Linked DNA regions of Homo sapiens. The protein of the gene in region 1 purifies or fractionates together with the protein of each later gene. This does not show direct contact. Each region holds a gene or a part of one and is shown in the gene's direction. Other genes may lie near its edges. The genes, in order: DCUN1D4, MSRB3 and ARL4C.

What was found.
Region 2: the proteins of DCUN1D4 (region 1) and MSRB3 purify together in Homo sapiens (affinity purification with mass spectrometry; 2 studies listed by BioGRID and IntAct, with this or other methods). This does not show direct contact.
Region 3: the proteins of DCUN1D4 (region 1) and ARL4C purify together in Homo sapiens (affinity purification with mass spectrometry; 2 studies listed by BioGRID and IntAct, with this or other methods). This does not show direct contact.

Annotation. Positions count from the first base shown.
Region 1 is NC_000004.12:51,908,666-51,916,541, forward strand, and holds part of DCUN1D4 (DCN1-like protein 4), read left to right. Parts: intron 1-254; coding exon of another isoform or gene 255-310; intron 311-492; exon of another isoform or gene 493-787; intron 788-2,404; coding exon 2,405-2,509; intron 2,510-4,624; coding exon 4,625-4,727; intron 4,728-4,863; coding exon 4,864-4,919; 3' UTR 4,920-7,876. UniProt on the Homo sapiens protein: Contributes to the neddylation of all cullins by transferring NEDD8 from N-terminally acetylated NEDD8-conjugating E2s enzyme to different cullin C-terminal domain-RBX complexes which are necessary for the activation of cullin-RING E3 ubiquitin ligases (CRLs).
Region 2 is NC_000012.12:65,463,683-65,468,283, forward strand, and holds the end of MSRB3 (methionine-R-sulfoxide reductase B3 isoform 2 precursor), read left to right. Parts: 3' UTR 1-3,225; downstream 3,226-4,601. UniProt on the Homo sapiens protein: Catalyzes the reduction of free and protein-bound methionine sulfoxide to methionine. Isoform 2 is essential for hearing.
Region 3 is NC_000002.12:234,493,880-234,502,610, reverse strand, and holds the start of ARL4C (ADP-ribosylation factor-like protein 4C), read left to right. Parts: upstream 1-5,529; 5' UTR 5,530-6,024; coding exon 6,025-6,599; coding exon of another isoform or gene 6,600-6,603; exon of another isoform or gene 6,604-6,774; coding exon 6,775-6,805; 3' UTR 6,806-8,731. UniProt on the Homo sapiens protein: Small GTP-binding protein which cycles between an inactive GDP-bound and an active GTP-bound form, and the rate of cycling is regulated by guanine nucleotide exchange factors (GEF) and GTPase-activating proteins (GAP).

The DNA of each region.
Region 1 (7,876 bases):
TTGGGAACCCCTTTGCAGAGAATGTCATTAGGATCATTGTTGTCAGAGAACCCCCTGCGAGTGTCTCCAATTTTGATGTTTAGTAGATGTTTGCTGTGGGAGCTCTCGACTGTTGTTCCCGGGAATTTTTAGTGTTTCCAGTCATGGTCATTTGCACATAGCCACAAGTCCACTCACAGGAAATGTTGGTTATCAGTGAGATGCCACTATTCAGATTGTGAGTGCATCCATAATATCTTTCTCTTATTTGCTAGGCCGAAGATGGTGTTAGTGATTGCGAGCTGCTGGCTGGCACCCTTGCAGAGCAGGAGTAAGTGAGTGCTGTTCAGCTTTCCAGTCCTGTGAGTCTGATGCCTTTCCTCCGTGTTTTGGCATCACTGCCAAACATATGCATTGAAATCCTTCATGATCATCAGTTTGTCAGATGATTATATTGTTGCAAAGAGTCTGTCCAGGTCTTTTGTATCTTTTTTTTCTTTTTTGTCACCTTAGTGTATGTCCATTGTGACGGGGACATAGGTATTGATGATGGTGGAAGAAGGCACAATATATATCACAGCAAGACTAGAGATTTGGGGTTTAGTGAATGATTACAAACTCTGCAAAGGGAAAACTCTTCCAGAGCGCCAGTGTTGTCAGCCCAGTGCTGCATAAGCTGTTGTTCAACAAATGGACTTTGGCCGAGTCCTGTGGTGCCGCGTGTGTTTCTCAACAGTTTACTCGTTTATCTTGTGGATTGCTTCATAGTATGGTGTGCTGTTGCCGTCTGCCACACCTGTGTTACAGGGTAAGAGGAAGTTTTCCATTTGCTTGCACAGTGTCATCACAGAAGTGTAAGCCCTTGAAACACAACAAACCAATGCAGTTTGTCTGGCAAAAGGCAGGCAGTCTCTAGATCACCTCTTCTCCTGTCCTCTTCTCCATTGGGAGTGCGTACTGCAGCCCTGAGCAGGACAATACATATGGCCAAGGGACAGGCAGAGAACCCTGTGGAAAGGAGGTCCCACCTGTTTGCATAGAACTGTGGAACTGGGATACACCTGCCCTCATCAGACTTAAGTTATGTGACCTCTGAAAGAAGGGTGATGTGGAGCCATCTGACCTGGTCTATTCATGGACAGTCGTTACACTTCACAACTGAGACCAAAAGGCCAGATCTATTGCACATCTTCCTTAGGCAACAAGTTTCCTTGTCTTCATCTACCTTGATTGTTGTTGTTAAGTGAGGCCCTTACATTTGCTGTATTAAGTCCCAATTCAGGGTCATGGCTAGAAATGGTTTGTATACTAAAGAGTACCTCACTGTTAAGCGTCCTTGCAGTGATGATTTATTTTATCAGGAGGTATATATGGCTGCATATGTGGCTTAGGGTGGTGGTCACAGCATCATCCCTTAATTTGAACATTTAGATTCCACTGCACTGGGCTAGCCAGGCACTTTCTCCCTTTGTAAAAAACTACTTTTACAAATTTCCACTGTAGTTAAGATAACACATGGAGGCTAGCTTTGGATATGTAAGGTATGCTTATGGTCCCAGGCCCTCTATTCCTTTCCATGGAAACTGACCGCTTGTAGTTCTGGAATGGAAGCATATAAGAAAGACGGAAATGAGAAATTAGGATCCTTAATTGCAAATGTAAGTGGAATGAGCTTACCCTGCCCTTATTTAGGTTTATGTTCTTATCTTTTTTTCTGGTGTCCTTATGAAATGTTGTCTTTCACTTGGTTACTAGTTAGGAGTATTTTACTAGGAAATTTACGTCTAAGAAATCTATCTATCTATCTGTCTATTGAAGGACTGTATTGATAGACTTCCTGCCTTCCACCAGAGTGGGTAGATGAATCTATCCTCTGATTTAGAGAGACACTTCAGAGCCCCAGCATTTGGTATGAGCTGAAGTCAATTCCAGCATGTTTAGGTTCAAGAAAAATATTTATCAATGAAATCAAATTGATTTCGTTTTTATTAAGGAAACCTGATTCCTAATCATAGGCATCAAAACCTTTAAGCTCCGTTGAGTTATAGGCTTTATGGTCAACAATTAGGATTTTGATAATTATCATAAATATCAAACAAGCAAGTGATTGAGTTACAAGTTTTTATTAATCCCATGAAAAGCCTGTAGAAACTGCTACGACATAACTAATTGATTTTGCATTAGGGTGATCATTCAGTTGACATAAATCTTTCTCACAGTAAATTTATATAATATCGTAATGCCCAAGCCTTCCATTGTGTTTGACTACCTCCCCTCCCTAACCTTAGTCTGGATGCAGGGTCTTTAAGGTGTATGATAAATGAGCTGTTTACTAATTTCCTGTTGAAGTGAATACACATTTGCAATTATTGGAATTTATTATTTGGGGGCATCTGGCTCATCCTTGTTTTTGTTTGTTAAACAGGAAAAGGACCAGCGCAGCCTAGACATAAACACTGCCAAGTGCATGTTGGGACTGTTATTAGGAAAAATCTGGCCCCTTTTTCCAGTTTTTCACCAATTCTTAGAGGTACCAAATTGTTGTTTTATGAAATGTATGTTTGCTTGCTTGGAACTACCAAATAACTTTATTCACCCGTTGTATGTAATTTTTTGTTTGTTGTACTTTTCTGCCTATGTAGGAATTACGGTGACATAATTGCTGTCAGTCAGCAGCTACCTATCTTCTTGGAGTGCATCTGTGTATGCGTTTAATGTTGTGTTGCTTCATTCCACATTAAAAATGCATCCGAAACAGCCACAGCTCTGTCCTTTTCTCTCTTTTCTCATCCCCATTTTAAAGCTTCACTTTTGTTTAGATTTTCTGTTCTTTGTAACAATAGAAAAAGAAGATTTACTTTCTTTTGACTTTAGATGAACTTCCACTTTTATTAAGCAGAGGTTTAAAAGACAGTCATCTGCCTTCTTACCAAAATTAGTTTGTAGTATGTTCTTATCTACTCTTGTCACCAAGTAACTTGAGGACCTTAGATCAATCTAAGTATTAGGCAGACTGACAATATCTCCTTCAGTTTAAATTGTCTTCAGATCAGTATCAGAACAATCCAGCACTTTATTCCATCATTGTTTGTGTGCTTTTAAGTATTGATGATCAGAAATTCTGAGCTACTGGTTTTGTTGAAGTGTCATTCTGTGGGACCTGGAAGTATATGGGATACAAGTTTGAGTTACTTGGGTTGTCATATATGGCATCCTCCTTTCCCTCCTGCCCCAAGCCCTTCTAAAAAGTGTCCTTTGCTTGCAAGGATGAGGGTGTTGGGTCTTTGAGAAAATGCTGGGCCGTAAGATGACTCTGGCTTCACTCTTGAATAATCTTTCTCACAACTTACTTTATGTAATGGTCCAGAATATTTTTAATATCTGATAGGATTCTTTGAGAACTGTTATTAAAAATTTCTTTTAACATTACTAAGTGGGACTCCTCAAAAATTTAAAAACTAGTTTTACGTAAGTATCTGTTTACCCAAAATAGTCCATGTTGACATATGGTCTGTTCTAATTTCTCTGACAATCCCTTGAGATGAGTTAGCATTATTTGGAAAAATAAATAGAAATAGTTCCCTGTTCTCAGAGAGTTTAGCTGGATTTACACCTGTGTGTAAAGAGTCTTAAGCTGGAAGACCTGGCCTGGAGGAAATCTGACTTTGTGTAATTCCAGGTGCATCATCAACTGTTTCAGGACTGGTTTTTGCTTTTACCTGCTTAGAAAGTTAAACTTGTAGTCTGTGCTTTGTTCTCTCTCTTACATTAGTTTGCATTTTTCTTTAAAAAAGACAGTATTCCTCTCATTTCAGCTTTTCTTGTGTTTGCATCCTCAAAACCATTGACTCAACTCTCTTTGCTTTTTATGTACTTGTATTGTTTTACTATGTTTCTGATTTTAGTGGGGAAGATTTAAAAATCATTGGTTCTGGATTTTATTTATGAATCTTCATACAGGGATACTGTATTTTTAAATAGACACATGGCAAATTTCTCGTCTAAGAGGAATAGAAAAACGATTTCACAGCTATTCTAGCTTCTTTTATGATCAGATTCGAGTTTTGAATTATTAGAACAGTAATTTTTTTCTGTGACAAGAACACCTAATTTTGAGACCACTTGCAGCACTTACCGGATCTCGTCAAGTAACCTGCTGCTGCATGTGCTTTAAGCCGAAGGCTTGGCCATGGGCAGTGCTGGTTATGTCAGGGGTTATATTAATGGGAGCTACTCTTTATTTAGCACTTACTTTGTGCCAAACACTGAATGAAGTGCTTCACATAAATTAGTAAATGATCTCTTTTAATTCTTATAATATCTTTATGAAGTAGATATTATCTGCATTTTATATAAAATGGCTTTTGCAGTTTAGAATTTTCACTTCTGGGGATATATAATCATGTTATTTTGATGTGCTTTCCATTTTGTATTGAGACCCTGTCATATTTTTGTAATGACAATTGTCATCTTAAATTCTACTCTTGCTCTCCCTCACCATCCTCCTAGATTGGTGCTTAACAAACCTCAAACAGAAAGAGTTAACCTTACATGAACTTAATTAAGTTGATTCATAAAGCAATTGAAACCGTCCCATTTGTTCATTTTAAGTGTCAGTAATTCATATTACTTTTCCCTCCATCAGCAATCAAAATACAAAGTTATTAATAAAGACCAGTGGTGCAATGTCCTAGAGTTTAGCAGAACAATTAATCTTGACCTCAGCAACTATGATGAAGATGGAGCATGTAAGTACTGCCGCTACCATTCTGCCATTCGTGTACATTTCTATATCATCCTCATTGGGAAAAGCCTCAGCTACATTACTATTATTATTATTGTTATTATTATTATTATTACTACTGTTTCTCTCTTTCTCTCCAGGGCCAGTTTTGTTGGACGAGTTTGTGGAGTGGTATAAAGACAAACAGATGTCCTAGGACTTTATGCATAGCAGCGAGAGAGTCACTGTTACCACAGTTTTGTCACCCATTAGCCATAAATTGCTGTTTGTATCAAAGCGCATGCTGCTTCTCTTGCACTGTTTCCCTTTCGCAGGGACATGTTGGTGTTTGCTATTGAATTGGCCAGCTCTGCTTGCTGTGTGGCATTGTTCTCTTGGAAGGCTGCTTTGCAGTTTGTATTTACACTACAGATTGGTGAATTTGCCAACGTCCTCACTGTGATTATGTGTATATTGCTGTTTAAATTTTGTATATGTGTATAAAAGGAAAAAGGTTCACCTAGAGATTATTTCTGAAAAATGTATTGTAAAAATAATTTTGTGGCATTTCTAGTCCCTTTTTTTGAATGAACCAATTATACTTTATTTGGTCTCCTATGTAGCATTTCAGAAAACAAGAGAAAACTGTTACCATGAACAAACATTGCCAGAATTAACCTTACTGTTTAAGAGGCCAACTTCTGGAAGGAGGTAGGAGTCATAACTTTTTAGAGGCATATGCCAAATATCATTTGGTATACTTAACAATATTAGTGTTTTAAAATGATGAGTTATAATTATTTGAACATATAGATATGTAACATGCCACAAATCATTTCTACCATGCAAGGTGTATAAGTTGTTTATTTTTTAGTGTTAAAACTATAATAGCTTGAATATAGGTACCAATGAACAAATTCAAATTGCACCTCTTTTCTTAAAAGAATGGGATTTAAACTCTTATAAACATTCTTTAACTTTTTTGTTTGTTTGTTCTCTTTTTTTCCTTTTGCATTCTTCTAGCCAGTGATTGATCTGCTAATGCTTTCTTTGCCACTCTAAGTAAAATTTATTTCACCTCCTCAATGAAAACCTCATGGTTTTGCTGGCTGTTTATAACTGCATCGCACTTCTAGTTGTGGCTTGAATTTTCAGTTAAGCTTTCATGGTATGTAATTTTCCAGCCTTTTGAGAAAACAAGCATACTATAAGTGAGAGCTGTTTTGTTTTCCTTGTTTGTTTGTTTCATGCTAGGCTTTTCCTGGCAGCATGTCCATTGCAGGCAGTGGACAAGAAACCACCAGCATTGAGCTAACCCAGTACATGCTAGGACCTGTCCTAGAGGGGCCACTTTTCATTACCTGAGTTATTTGTACAGAAGGGCAATAGCCATTATTTTTGTGGATGAGGAAACAAGAATAAACAGAATGGTATTTTTAGGTTTGTATTTTATGTCTTTTTTTTTTTTTTTTTTTGCCATTCTTGAGGAAATATAGAGATGACATGTTTTCACCCCAACTATCTGGTGCTATTGAATGACTAATTCAGTCCCTAAAGTTCTGTGAAAACACAAAAGTCTAATGATTTGAGTGAGTAAAAGGTAATGGTGCATTTGAACAAGTAAATGCTGTCGTGGTCAGCAAGATCCGTGATTTGAACATGTGATGACTGGAAAAAGGTTTGGGTTATTTGGAACTCTGGCTAAAACTTCTTTCGGGTGACATGTGATCGTTTAAATGGCATTAAGTGAATAAAGCACACAGACAGTGCTACTCTTGACCACTATTTTACCATTTCTTTGCAAACAGTGTTCACATTTTCATATTTTTTCCCTAACTAAACCACCAAAGAAAGAAATTTTGTATGTATATACAGTGTGTGTGTATACAAAATCATGATATAGTAGAATGCAACTACTTTCTTTTTCTACCAAACGAAAGGTTTTATTTGCTGTGAAATAAACCAGAAGTTTAAAAAACCCTGTAGTGATTAAGCATACTTAACCACTCCTTATTTGTAGATTCACTTTCAACCTTAAAAATTAATACCAGTTTGCATAAACCAATATCTGAAAAGAACAGGAAATGTTAATGGCAAGCAACAGCTATTAATACTGATGTGATGGATGCATTTGTTTTGCAGTGGTGACTGGCCTAGGCAGGTTTGGATCTGTGAAGAATTGATTCATTTTCAAAATTATTCCATAAAGTTAAAAAGTTACACTTTAAAGGCAACAGGTCATACAGTTCTTTAAATCTGATCAACTGTAGCTTTATTTAAAGCAAATATAAATCATAGATGAAGTTATTTTAAACACTATGTTAGAATATAGAGATTTTTAAAAAATGCTGATAAGCACAGTTAATTCTAAAATGAGAGGATTGTTACAGGAGGGAGATGTTACAGTTAATCCACAATCAACATTTTGATGGTAGGGAAAAAACTGCGTAAAAACTATTGCATTATGTATGATAAGAAAGTAAGTATTCCAAAGGGATAATCTTGCATATTAAGAAAACTCCAAATAATCTTTAAACTGCCTTGAAAAATAAACCTCTTTGACTGCTGAGCGGCAGAGTGCTTACCCTTGATTGTCTTGATTTTATATATTTATTTCTAAGGGGAGAAAAAGGGGTCAGACAGAGTAATATGATACATTTTCTTAAAAACTTCTCTAAGTTGCACAAAACTGAACAATCATCAAGCACTTATTTACTGGCTAATGTTGAATAAATTAGGGTGCCTTCATCTGGGTTTTCTTTAGTACCTAAGTCTACAACCCTTTCTCTTTTTCTATTGTGTTTCGAACTCCACATTGCAATACTCTGTTGTCATGGAATACAACCTTTAGATGTTTACTGCTGAAGTAGGTCAGAAATTGTATTATTTGATTTGCCTCAAACATCCACTGTAATGTTACATGCACCTTTTTTGAAGCATGAACTCTGAATTATGTTTTTATAAATCTGACTAGGCAAACCTAGATTCTGGTTTCACAATGGATTTATTTTCTCTCTCAGTCTCCATTTTAACAGTGCTTTTGAAGTTTATACAGAAAGCTTTAAAAGTTAGTTTGTGCCCTTGGTTTTTATTCTTAAAACTGCTAAAATACCTCTGTAAGCCTTATCCTTTATTCTTTCATATGTTGTATAATAAATGTATAGATTTCATTGA
Region 2 (4,601 bases), on another chromosome or scaffold:
CAGTGTAGAGACCAGAGCTGGGCAGTGCAGGGCATGGAGACCTGCAAGACACATGGCCTTGAGGCCTTTGCACAGACCCACCTAAGATAAGGTTGGAGTGATGTTTTAATGAGACTGTTCAGCTTTGTGGAAAGTTTGAGCTAAGGTCATTTTTTTTTTTCTCACTGAAAGGGTGTGAAGGTCTAAAGTCTTTCCTTATGTTAAATTGTTGCCAGATCCAAAGGGGCATACTGAGTGTTGTGGCAGAGAAGTAAACATTACCACACTGTTAGGCCTTTATTTTATTTTATTTTCCATCGAAAGCATTGGAGGCCCAGTGCAATGGCTCACGCCTGTGATCCCAGCACTTTGGGAGGCCAAGGCGGGTGGATCACGAGGTCAGGAGATGGAGACCATCCTGGCTAACATGGTGAAACCCCGTCTCTACTAAAAATACGAAAAATTAGCCAGGCGTGGTGGTGGGCACCTGTAGTCCCAGCTACTCAGGAGGCTGAGGCAGGAGAATGGCGTGAACCCGGAAGGCGGAGCTTGCAGTTAGCCGAGATCATGCCACTGCACTCCAGCCTACATGACAATGTGACACTCCATCTCAAAAAATAATAATAATAACAATATAAGAACTAGCTGGGCATGGTGGCGCATGCATGTAGTCCCAGCTACTCCTGAGGCTCAGTCAGGAGAATCGCTTGAACTTGGGAGGCGGAGGTTGCAGTGAGCTGAGCTCATACCACTGCACTCCAGCCTGAACAGAGTGAGATCCTGTCAAAAAAGAAAAGAAAAAGAAAGCAGCATTCAAATGTAAGACAACTGTAAAATATTGAGCCCCACTTGGTCTAAAATTCAAAAAGAAGAACGCCTGTCCATCGCCTTTTTATAAGTCCTTCTCTCCACACCTAAAAGCAGCTGCAGCTGGAAGGGCACAAATTCCACTGTGTAAAATAAAATATTAGGGGCAACACACTTCATCAAGGCAGCAGGAATGAGAGAGAGCAGAGAAGATCAAGGATGAAGTCTTGGGTACTGAAAAATTCAGTGCTGGGCAGAAAAACTGACAGGGCAGTACAAGTAACAAACAGAATCCAAGTGGGGTGGCCCTTGTGCACAGAGCTCCAGGTGACCTCTGGAGAGACATGGGCATTCACATGGAAAGCTAAAACGGAAGCTCAAGTTTCATACTCAACATAATCTTCTGTGTGACAAAGGACAAGCCATGTAGCCTCTCTGTGCCTATTTCTTCATGCATAAACTGGGACTCATAATATTTGTAAAATGTATTGATACTCTCAGGGCAAATTCACTATATTGCTATACAGTTGAGATCAGTGTTGTAAAATTAAACTGATCTGGTTCTAATTGCCTCAAAGGCCAAAGCCCAGGCATTTGAAATGGAAAGAAGCAGAGAGGAGGCTGACTTAGCTGATTGGTATGGAAACAGTTGGGCCAAGAGCCAGAATTTCCCTTTGTAGCAACACGGCTAGTTTTACTTTGAGAAGCTCTGCTCAGCTGCTTTATAACATTAAGTCTGGCGGAATGGATGTCACTGTGCACAATAAAGTTTTCACAAGTATAAACAATGGTGATGTAAGTCAACATTGCTGTAGCCAGGTGTGAAGGTTGTATGGTGTGTGACGAATGTACATCATGTTTGTAGGTTTGGATGCTAATCTTGAATTGTAGTTTAAAAAATACGTATTTTTGTAACTCTTTGAAAGTTTATGAAGACTGACAGCTTTCCTTGTAAGCACTAAGAGAAAAAAAAGAAAGAGGGACATTTGACAATTTTAAAGAAACAACAAGAAATTAGAATGAAAATCTGTGACAAACAGCGTCAGTGTGGCCATGTCCACATTCCTACATGTCTCTCTCTACAAGCACCTCTCTAAGAAGCCTGACATCCCGGTGGACTCTTTATAGTCATGTACACTTGATTCCAGATGAGCTCTGGTCTTATCTGGATGCTCAGATAAGAGGTTTCTATCTGAGCATCCAGATGTTCCCTCAGGTTCCAAGACATTTCACCCCAGGCCCTGGGTTCACTCTGGAATTCGTAGGCTTCACGTCTCTCTAGAAATGACGTGTAAAATTTAAGACCAGACCTCAGCCATCAGCGTCCAGACCATCCTAGAAGTCTTTCCCAATCTCACAGAGAAAGCCCTAGTATTTCCCAGTGACCCCAGGATTCCACGTTGGGGTGGCCAAAGAAATAGGTCTCTCAGGGCTTTGCCACAGCCTCCAGCCCATCCTTCAGAGGCACACACAGCACCTCTCGGCTGCTCCAGCTCTGTAGGATAGCCTCCCCTGGGGTCCGTGGGACGCGGGCCACAGTGTTGAGGTAGACAAGGAGGATCAGTGAGAGGCCTCTTCCCTCTCCACAGAGACTGGATTGTCATTGTTCCTTCATTTATATCGTAGGGCTTAACATTTCACTCAAAAAAAAGCCCCTCTTTTTCTAATCCTTAGTCTTTGTTTCAAGGAAAGCCAGTTTTTCTTCTACCACATTTTCCAGGATCGACTTTAAGAAAAATGCAACATCTATTGAAAAAAAGTGGGGTGTATGCATGTGGTTTAATTCCAGATTGCTTTTGGGTTTAAGTGGTATCAAATTTCAGTATATTTCTGTCTTATGTGAAAGAAATATATTACTAAAACGTCAGTGAGCAATAATGTCAGCTGTCAAGCACTAGATTTATTTTTGCAGGATATGGAGTGCAATGAACTGAGTCAATATGGCAAGGTGTATGTGATCTGTGGGAGTTATGCCATTTAACATAGGAAGTGCATGGGACTTTCCCTCTCTGCACTCCAGCTCTTACTGTACCATTAGAAGATGCAGAATTCTGTTGGTGTGCAAAAAGTATAGCCTTACATTCAAGCAGAATGGATCTGAAGAAAGCAGCAATATCTGTTACTAGAGAACATTCCCATGTGTTTAAACTCTTCACTTCTTAGATGCATTTAAATTCTTAATGCAAATGACGTAGCAATTTGAAAACTTCTCCGTATTACTTGTGTTTAAAATGTCTTGCTTTAAATACAAAACAAATGGTAAAGGGGATTATCTTTTGTTTAGATGGTTAAATATTATTTTTGCCTTAGATAGCTTTGTAATAATTTTTCTCCAGACAGTTCAACACTTTTGAAAAATGACATGAATTTTCATTAAAAACCCTTTTCCTATGTTTATTGTATACAAGAATTATGCAATAAAATTTCTTTATAAAAATATTTTCTTCTTTGATTCCTGAAGACTCCTTTTATTTTCAGCACAGATACATGGACTGGAGTTTGTAGCAGACTGTTCTGTTTGCCTCCTTAACCAGCTGACAAGTCTGTAGTCTATATGGAGAGCCTTTCATCTGATGCAGTCTTTGGAAGTTGGGTCTCTTACAGTAGGGTCAAGTCCAACTCTCCACACCACAGGCCCTGGGAGAGGCCTCCAGGGATCTGAAAGACTGGAGGAAAGGGAAACATTTGCAGAATTACTCAACCTTCACCTCACCTCAGCAAAATCTTCAGCAGCTTGTGTATGTTTCTTGCTTAAAATATGGATTTGGGAGTTCCACCATAAAACTCTGTGGGTAAAAATGCAGGAATGATACCACGCTGATGCCTTGGCTTCTGTTAAAAAATTTGACAGGAAACTTACACTATCATTGAGGGTTGTTCTCTGTGGAAGTATATTAGGAGCTTTCCACTGCTTACAGATGATTTCACTGATAAAAGCCATCTCTACAGATAAGTTTTGGTATTGTATTATTTGTTGTTGAAATGTTGAGTTGTTTTGTATTGTTGATTTATTTACTTTAGGAGGCAGAAGTGGGATGATGAAGACTTTTGTTCTTCAGCCAATTCTTTAAGTCATACTCCTGGTATCTTAAAATTCACAGGCCAGCAACTTTATGTAGTATACCTTAGAGCACTGCTTTTCATAGTGTAGTCCTCAGACACTGAGGTATCAGCATCACCTGGGAACTTGCCAGAAATACAAGTTAATCAAAAGTTCTGGGCTGGGGCCTTAGCAATCTGCATTTTAGAAAGCCCTCCATGTGATTCTTGTGCTTAACCACTGCCTTGGAACTTTTAGTGAGAAAACTTCAATTAGTATTAATTTTAAAAGCATTTATATCTGACCCTCGAAAACGACTTTTTTTTCATCAGTCCTTTTCTTTCTATAGGGGTGGGTGGATAGTTTTTCCAAAATGTCATGCCTTGTAGCGCTTCTCGTCCCTCACTGCCCATTTGTCTTGTCCAGGAGGACTAGTCTGTCCTCATTCACTAGCACCACTTTAATTCCTATTAGCATTTCTGGACTGAGCCTGGGCTGCCCAGTGGTGCTTCCCAGTGCCTTTCTAGACCACAGGATGTCCATGGCAGGGTTCATCACAGTAATTCCAAGAATTAGAGAGCAGACTTCAGTGTATAAATTTACATATCACCTTTCTCATCTCTTCTATTTTCTTATACTTCCTTTCAAAATTATCATCATTTTTTTTAACCATTTAAGATATTTCTTCAAAGGTGCCATGTACCCAAATCTTCAACTCTTTCTTTTTGTCAGAAAACTGCTGTTACCTAGATCTTAACAACAAAACGACTTTTGG
Region 3 (8,731 bases), on another chromosome or scaffold:
CTGAGTGACCACACATTAGAGAGGGTGGCACTGGCAACACACCCCATCCTCCCTGCTGCACTGTAGAAAGCCAATAGGGTTTGACAGGGGCACAAAAGCGTGATTGTTTTCATCTCTCTGGGGTCCAGCCAAGTAAGCTTAATTAAATGAAAATAATAGCATTTCAGTTCACCTGCAGAGGTGGGAGAAGAGGAATGAAAGTAATCCAAGTTTCCATCAAATACTTCTTGGTTCATGGTGCAGCTCTCTAATCACCTGATATTTATTGTTAACTTGTTTTTTTTTTCCTTCACTGTAGCTATTAGAGTAGAAATTTAATTACTGTGATTGAATTATTAAAGGATTCAGAAATACCTTTTGCATACTAAGCCTTTTCTTCCCCCTGAACTGGAAGCTGGCACTAAGAACTTTTCTGTCACTTTGGTATGCCTGAGTGCTGACTTCCAAAGCTTTGAGTCTTAACATCCTTGACAAAGGTTCATTTAATACATGCCATGTAAATATTAGGGAGAGATGTAAAATAGTGTTATATAAGAATTATATTTGAAAATATTACTGATAGGAAAGATAATGGCTTCTATTTATTATTATTATTTTTTGAGATGGAGTTTCGCTTTTGTTGCCCAGGCTGGAGTGCAGTGGCGCGATCTTGGCTCACTGCAACCTCTGCCTCCCAGGTTCAAGCCATTCTCCTGCCTCAGCCTCAAGAATAGCTAGGATGACAGATGCCTGTCACCATACTCGGCTAATTTTTATATTTTTAGTACAGATGGGGTTTCACCATGTTGGTCAGGCTGGTCTCAAACTCCTGACCTCAGATGACCCTCCCACCTTAGCCTTCCAAAGTGCTGAGATTACAGATGTGAGCCACCATGCCCAGCCCAGATAATGGCTTCTAAAATTTTATATCTATCTCAGGAATGTAATAGAGATCGACAATTATTAAGGAAGACTTGAAGCGGGGGAGCCTTTTAGCTTTTTGATTTAAATTTTTTTTCTTGGAGAAAACAGCAACAACAACAACCATACAAAACACTAGCAGTGGTGATCATTGGGAAAATAAAAACCTGAATTGTTTCAGCCCTGTTGCTTAGCAAAATAAAAAATAAGGCACCCTGATTTTTTTTTCCTTAGAATTATAAACTTGAATGGCCAATAGAGTAGTGGATCTTTTTTATTTTCAGGCTTTGGACCACTTGAATGAAGCAGGAGCTTGCAGGCATCACAGATTTTCATTTATCTCCCCCCAGATCTACCGTCCCATCCACAAAACTTCCCTTGGCACCAGTGTCTTAGTGGCTTCCACTGTTACGTAGCCTGAGTCGGCGTTTCTCCTGGAGTTGAGGGGGTTGCACTGCAGTGATGGTGACTGGTTTGTCTAGCATGCCCTGGGGCTTCTGGAAGTATTGGTTTGGTTCTTCCTTAAGGAACCTCTCCTGACAGATAAAAGGCTTCAATCCTGGACCACCTGGCTTCAGGAGCTTCAGGCCTTGTCACTTTGTCTGCCAACTGGCCTCCTTCATTCTCGACTCCCAGCCCCATTCTCCATTTACAGCTGCTCATGCCTGCCTGCGAATTAGATGCAAAAATCAGTTTTCTTCCCTTCTCTGGTCTCAGCTGGGTTTCCTGGATGCTCTTTTCTGATCTCTTCCACCAATTGTGATTCTTTGAACAGTTCTCCTAGTAAAGCGACTTCCTGCTCTGCCAGGTTCCTGGCTCCCCTCTCCCAGCAGATAACCCACAGGTCTCACAGACAAGACCCACACTGGCATCAATGGCTCTGAGCTCTGAGCCCCAAGCAAAGCACCCATGGGCCCCTGGCACTTTCTCAGTTTAACCAGTAGGGCTCTATTCCTGCATCTCCATAGAGAGAAGAAAAGCAGGGGGTCACTTATCCATCATTCATTCCATAACTATGGACTGAACATTTGCTAAGCACTAGGCCAATGTGCCTCTGTAGAGCCCTTCATCTATTATCCGAGAAGCTCAGCAGAGGGCACTCCTGTATTATAACAGTTAAGCACCGGGGCAGTGAACCTGAACCCAGAGTTCCACAGCAGGTCTGCAGTGAGAACATGCAAATAACCCCACACTTATGCGCGCACGCGCGTGTGTGTATGTGTGTACACGTGTGCCCATGTTCTGGTCTTTATTTACTCATCATATTCAAGAATAAATGGGATGCTCCCTTTTGCATTTTAGGTTATTAGCCTTACTCAAGCAAAGATAATAATGCCATGATATATTGCTCATCGGATTCACTCAAAAGTCATTTTAATTGGTGGCACATTTTATTTCAAAGCCCTTAAAGGGAAAAAAAAGAGAATATTTTAGGATGCAATTTCAAAATTACTGCCAAGTTATTGCCTTCTGTTTGCTTGAAATAATTGAGTTCTTCTCTGGATGCAGTCATCTTGATGAAGAATAGAAAGGAGAGGACCTGAAATGTCACTGCTGCTGGAAGAGGAATTCATCTCAGGCAGACACAAGTACATGCTATTCTTTGAAAAAATCTCTCCTTCTGATTAATTAAAATGAAGTAAGTGCCACAGTGCAGCCAATATTTTCCACTCAGTGGAATTTAGCCATGATGTATGTCCATGAAGAAATAGGCTCAAAGTAGGCCTTACATGTCTGATATGAGTGGTAAACATTACCTTCCTTTTCATAATTCCAGTGTTTTTCAATAAAAATCCACATTTGAAGGAAAGTTACCAGTCGACTCAACCAAATGATATTTTTATGTGTTAGAAGTTAAATTATCAACTGTAAAATTAACTTATCACCTGGTGAGTGAAATTAGCAGGTAGAGTGGTTGCTATTCAATTATGGTGAGTTGCTGTTTAATGGCTGTGTTCTGGAAGGCTCTATTAATGTCTATTAATCTGTTTTTTCCTACTGGACAGCAGACAGCCCTTTATTGCTAAACCCCATCATGGTGGTGCAAAATGTGGAGGCTGCAGTCAAAACCACTGAGGCTCTTGGTAATAATTAGCATAGCACCAAAAAGATACATCGGATACTTTACTAAAATATCTCCTTCCTACCACCTTAAAACTTAAAGCAAGTCTTGACTAGGGGAAAAGGAAGTAACACAAAGGTAATCTGTGGAAGCCGGATGGAGAGGCTTCCAGTCTGATCTGTCTCTTTCCAAATGTCCAGGTCCCAGGCTACTAAACCAAAGGCTCATCTTGGGTTGGGGCTCAGCCTCGGCCCTGCCTGTGGCAGAGAAGAAAGAGAAACAAGAAACAGTCTCATGAGAAGCTGGCTATCTATGGGGCAGGCATTAAAGAGAGTCAAGAAAATCACTCCAAAAACACAAAATCCTGTCTCCCCAGGGTTCCCAATAACGGAAACATCATCATTATGAATTATGCCAACATATGTTGTTTCTGTTGCCTCACTAGAGTTGCTCTTTTGGTGACAGATCCTGGATTCTTCTTGGAGAACCACCCTTCCCGATTTCAACCCCTGGGCCACATCCACTGGTGTGTTCCCTCCTCCTGGACTGCAGTCCTTGATCCAGGGTGCGTGCTCCAGGCTTTGGTTAGAGTTACTGGGAAAGAGTTGTACCTTTTCCTTTCCAGGATCTAAACCAAGGATGTGAGTCCAAGGCTGCCAGAAGGAAAAAGAATCAACACAGGGGAACACGGAGGAGGACTGGAGAGACACCTGCTCGAAAGACTCCTTTTGAGCTCCTGGGTCTAGCCATGCCTGAAGAGGACCTTTATCCTTAACTTTTCAGTGATGTCAGTGAATACATTTCCATTTTTATTTAAAATGAAGTAAGTGGCACAGTGCAGCCAATATTTTCTGTTGAACTCTATCCTTCGGGTGGCTCACTTTATTCCTCATTGAAGGAAATAGCGTGTGGGTAGAGTGGGATGTGAGGAAGAGGGCAGGCAGGTGCCCAGTTTTGTGCATACAGACCCTTGGTCCTGGAGCAGGCAGTGGGCCTCTAGGTTCTGCCTTAGCCGTCACGGGCGCCTAGGCCTTGTTACCTCACTGGACAACGTTGGGTGGAATGATAGGCAGGGTCCTTTCCAGCCTGATACTTCGTTTCCAGCCCCAAATCCACTCAGTAGAGTGGATGGTCGCTCCGGCTGCCACCTTGGGAATTCCAAGGATAGGGGTGGTGGTGGCTTGTCCTTCCTTCTACAGGTGAGGTCTTCTCACATGCTTTGGTACCAACGATATCATATGTCTTTTCGTGGTTTGTGAACAGAAGGTGATAAAGTATTTCTCTAAAATTCTAGCTTTTATTCATAAATTCTTAGCATTTTCATTTTCTTCTCCCTTGACCCCGTTTCCGTCGTTTCTGTCTCATAAGCTAGAGCTGGGAAGATGCGGTCGCCCATGCTGCGGCCTGCTGTCTCCTGCGGAGCAGCTCTCCCCAGATCTGTGTGTTTGCCATAATATACTCTCACTTTTCTCCGCACCCAGAGAGGATATACATTTGTTACATGTTTACAAACCAGAATAAAACCATTGAACTGAGGTGACAGGAGGTGGAACCCGTGGAATATCAGTGTTTGTAACCCACTGCGCCACCAGCTCCAAGCTGTAGACACATTTTCTTTCAGCCCCCGGGGCTGGTGTTGCCATTTCTGCGGAGTAGTTCACCTGCGGGCAGGTGGTTCTCAGTTCCCAAAGTCGGGTGGCAAGGGGTGCTCTCCCGAAATGCTGACGCTTCCCCTGGGATGTCAGCAGAGTCGATGCGGACGAAATGAGGTAGCCCAGGCGTGTCTGGGAGGGTGAGCTGTCCGAGCTACTTGGGGCAGGTAGGTCTTCTAATCCCCCATCGCGGCCTAGGTCCGACCCTGCCCCAACCGCCGCCACCGGGCAAGAAAGGCTGGGCCTCCAGGGTGCCCTGGGCACAGGCCTGGGCTCCGGAGGGCGGCGCTGGCCGGGTGCAGCCCCCTGGAACCCAGGCAGGAGGCGAGCCTGGGCGTCACTGGGGGCCGGGGCCGGCGACAGCCGCGGCGCGAGGGTGGGAGGGGACGCGCCCGGCTGGATCCAGAGCGCAGGCTGGCAGCTCACCGAGGCCAGCCCCGTCCCGTCCCTTCTGGGGTTTGGAGGCCCCAGCCTCGCCGCCCTCACTCCCCAGAGCGGCGCTCTCCCAGTCACCCTGGGGGCCGCCCTGCCCCGCCTCGCGCCCACAGAGCTGGGACCCCGGGACCCACTCCCTCAGGCAGGCTGCGTCGCCCACGGCTGCGGCCCGGAGGGGCAGGGGGCGGGCTAGGACCCGGGCGGGGATTCCGGGAGCCGAGAGCTATTTTTGCAAACGCGTCAGCCGCTGGGGAGGAAGAGCCGGCTCCGCGCCCATTGTGTCTGCGCGGCGCGGCGCGGGAGGGGCCGGGGGGCGGCGGGGGGCGGCGGGGACGCAGCGAAGCGCGCGAAAACGGCCGGCTGGGCGGGGAGGACCGCGCCTGACCCCCGGCGGCGGGCGGGGCGGGGCCCGGGGCGGGTCCGGGGGCGGGTCCGGGGCGGGGCGCGAGGGGGCGGGTCCGGGAGCTCTCCGGCCGCTGCAGGCTGGCGGCTGCTGCGGCGGCGCGGGGACTGTGAGGCTGCCGAGCGGACAGCGACTCCCGGGGAAGCCCGCGCTCCGGGAGCGGGAGCGGGAGCAGGAGCAGGAGCAGCGCCGTCCCAGGCCAGAGGCGAGCGCCGGGCGCCGGGAGAGCGGAGAGCCCGGGCAGCTGCCGGAGCGCGGGGGCGCGGCCCGAGGAAACCACAGAGCGAGCCCAGGCCTGGGGAGGGCGCCGAACATCTGAGGCGGCTTCGCGGGAGACAAAGCCGCGCGTAGAGACGCGATGCCCGCCGATCGCGAGCCCGGCCGGCGAGGGCGCGGGGACTGCGGCGTCTGAGCGCGCCAAGCCGTGCGCCCGCGGGGACGCCGAGCCCCGGGGCCGGTGCGGGCGGCGGCGGGCGGGGCCCAGGTGCGCCCGGCCGCGTCGGGCCCGTGACTGCTCGGGGGGCGGCGCCCTCCCGCCGCAGCCGCAGTGGCTGGCGCCGCAGCCAGGAGCCATGGGCAACATCTCCTCTAACATCTCGGCCTTCCAGTCCCTGCATATCGTCATGTTGGGCTTGGACTCGGCCGGCAAGACCACGGTGCTCTACCGGCTCAAGTTCAACGAGTTCGTGAACACGGTGCCCACCATCGGCTTCAACACCGAGAAGATCAAGCTGAGCAACGGCACGGCCAAGGGCATCAGCTGCCACTTCTGGGACGTGGGCGGCCAGGAGAAGCTGCGGCCGCTGTGGAAGTCCTACAGCCGCTGCACGGACGGCATCATCTACGTGGTGGACTCGGTGGACGTGGACCGGCTGGAGGAGGCCAAGACGGAGCTGCACAAGGTGACCAAGTTCGCCGAGAACCAGGGCACGCCGCTGCTGGTCATCGCCAACAAGCAGGACCTGCCCAAGTCGCTGCCGGTGGCAGAGATTGAGAAGCAGCTGGCGCTGCACGAGCTTATCCCGGCCACCACCTATCACGTCCAGCCGGCGTGCGCCATCATCGGCGAGGGCCTCACCGAGGGCATGGACAAGCTCTATGAGATGATCCTGAAACGCAGGAAGTCCCTCAAGCAGAAGAAGAAGCGGTAATGCGCCCGGAGCGACCGGGGAGCGAGCGAGTGCGTCAAGAAAGAATGAATGGATGGATGGATGGTTGGATGGATGGATGGATGGATGAGCGAGAACCCGCGCCCGCGAACAAAGAGCGAACCAAAGCGATGCTTCGAATTTTTAAAACGGAATCTCTGCACCCAAATGCAGGACTGGTGACTTAAGGAGCTGCGAAGTCTGATTTACCGGCCTACTCTCGACCTGCCCCCCACCCCCAGCTCAGGGGACCTTTTGTCTGAACGCCAGAGCTACTGACCAGGTCGGGGGGCCGCGGTGGGGAGTGGAAGAGCCGGTCCTGCTGTCCGCCCTCCCAGCCCCAGGTGGAAGGCTCAGTTGTCGGAAAGACAAAAGCGATTTCTTCCCACTCCTGCAGGGCCAGAAGTTCAGGCTGCCCCGCCTCCACTGGGGGATCGCACCTGTGAATTACCTGAGGTATGCATTTCCCAGAACCGTGGGCGTACCCACCTTGGGGGGCATGTTGGTTCTGGGGGGACCACCTCTCCTTGCATTCAGGGGCTGTGAAGCTGAGTAATTTTCGGTCACAGGGCAGGCCCCTGTTGAAATTTCATTTGTCCTGCTCTGGGCCCAAAGGTGGTGGTGGTTTGGGTCATCAGAGGACTGCCTGGGACGGTTCAGCGGGCACGGAGCGCTGTGCTGGCCTGGCTGGGGATGGCCGCGGAGGTGCCCTTTTCCTGGTGCTTTGTGGTGGCTGCAGAAGACCAGTTTTGTTGAGAACTGCTTTTCAGCCTGGAATCAGACATCTTCCAGATGGTTTGGACCCTGTCCATGTGTAGGTCATTATCACACAAAGAGACCAATAAAAATAAAAAAAATAAAAAAAAAAAAAGACGAACTATTGGAGGTGGTGGCCAATGATGCATTTACTGTTTGCAGGATAGTTAAAGGTGTTTAAAGGGTAAGGCTTTTGGTGTAAATGCTGGATGGGGTGTGTGTGTGTGTGGATATAGGGACCTCCCTCTGTACTGTGTACTGTGTAATCGGCATTAATACCTAGACTCATATGTATGGAATTTTAAATTCTCTTAGCCTACTGATTGGTTTGGATGAGCACACCAGCTGCAGGTGTGTGCTGAATTGCAAGATGGTATTTTTTTTTTTAACCAAGGGATGTCTCTTGTAATACTAACCGCGTGATAATGGGTTTTCAGACATGATGAAAAAAAAAAACTTTTACAAATGAATACTTACCTTAGAAATATTCACCTTAGGAAAAAAGACTTTGCTCTGCCCTTTTATATTCCTTTATGCTGCAAGTGGTGACATGTTCAGATTTCTAATTTGGTTCATTGTGGCCTATCTGGTTTAAGTCTTTCATTAAAAATGTCTCGTTAGAGTATTTGATGTCATGCACCAAAAAAATAAAACCCCACCTTGTTGCAAAAGCTGACCTCGTTGCATGGAATTAAAAGAGAAGGAAAAACACAAGGATGAAGTCTTTCCGAATTCATTCTTGTGGGAACTGGCCTTCGGAGCCAGCCAGCACTTTGGGCAAATGCAAACAACAATGAGTGCTTGAGATAAAAGAAAGTGTGACGTCATGGTCACTGGTACTCAGGCACTTCACAGTTTACTTGAAAGAGGCTTTGGAAAATAGATAAAGTGAAAGAAGAATAAATACATATTTTTAATAATGTAATTTTAAAAATCCTTTATAATCAGGACTGAGTCTTGGTTTGCAGAAGCTGTCACTTACCCTGAAACACAGTATCAAAAGGGAAACTTAAAACATACTGTTTGATTTTTTTATTTCCTCTTACAATCCATGTTTTCAGGTAGAATTATGACTTTCCCCCCATTGTTACACATTTCTTTACAAAGGAGGCCTGTAGAAATTGGACACGATCATGCTTGAGCATGTGAGTTAGTCAAATTATGAGTCCCTGCCTATTGTCCATTACACACCGAATGTTAATTTAAGAACCAGAGGCAGAAGTTCTGGCTTCCTGCTTGAAACCCAATTCTTATATGAAATTTTTTAAAAGCAGAAACCTAGCAGCCCATCTGCTTTTTCTCTTTTGTCGGTGTATTTGGTACCCCTCCAATGCTGGTCTTTTTGTAGAAACTCAGTAGAGAAAGTCTAGCTAAG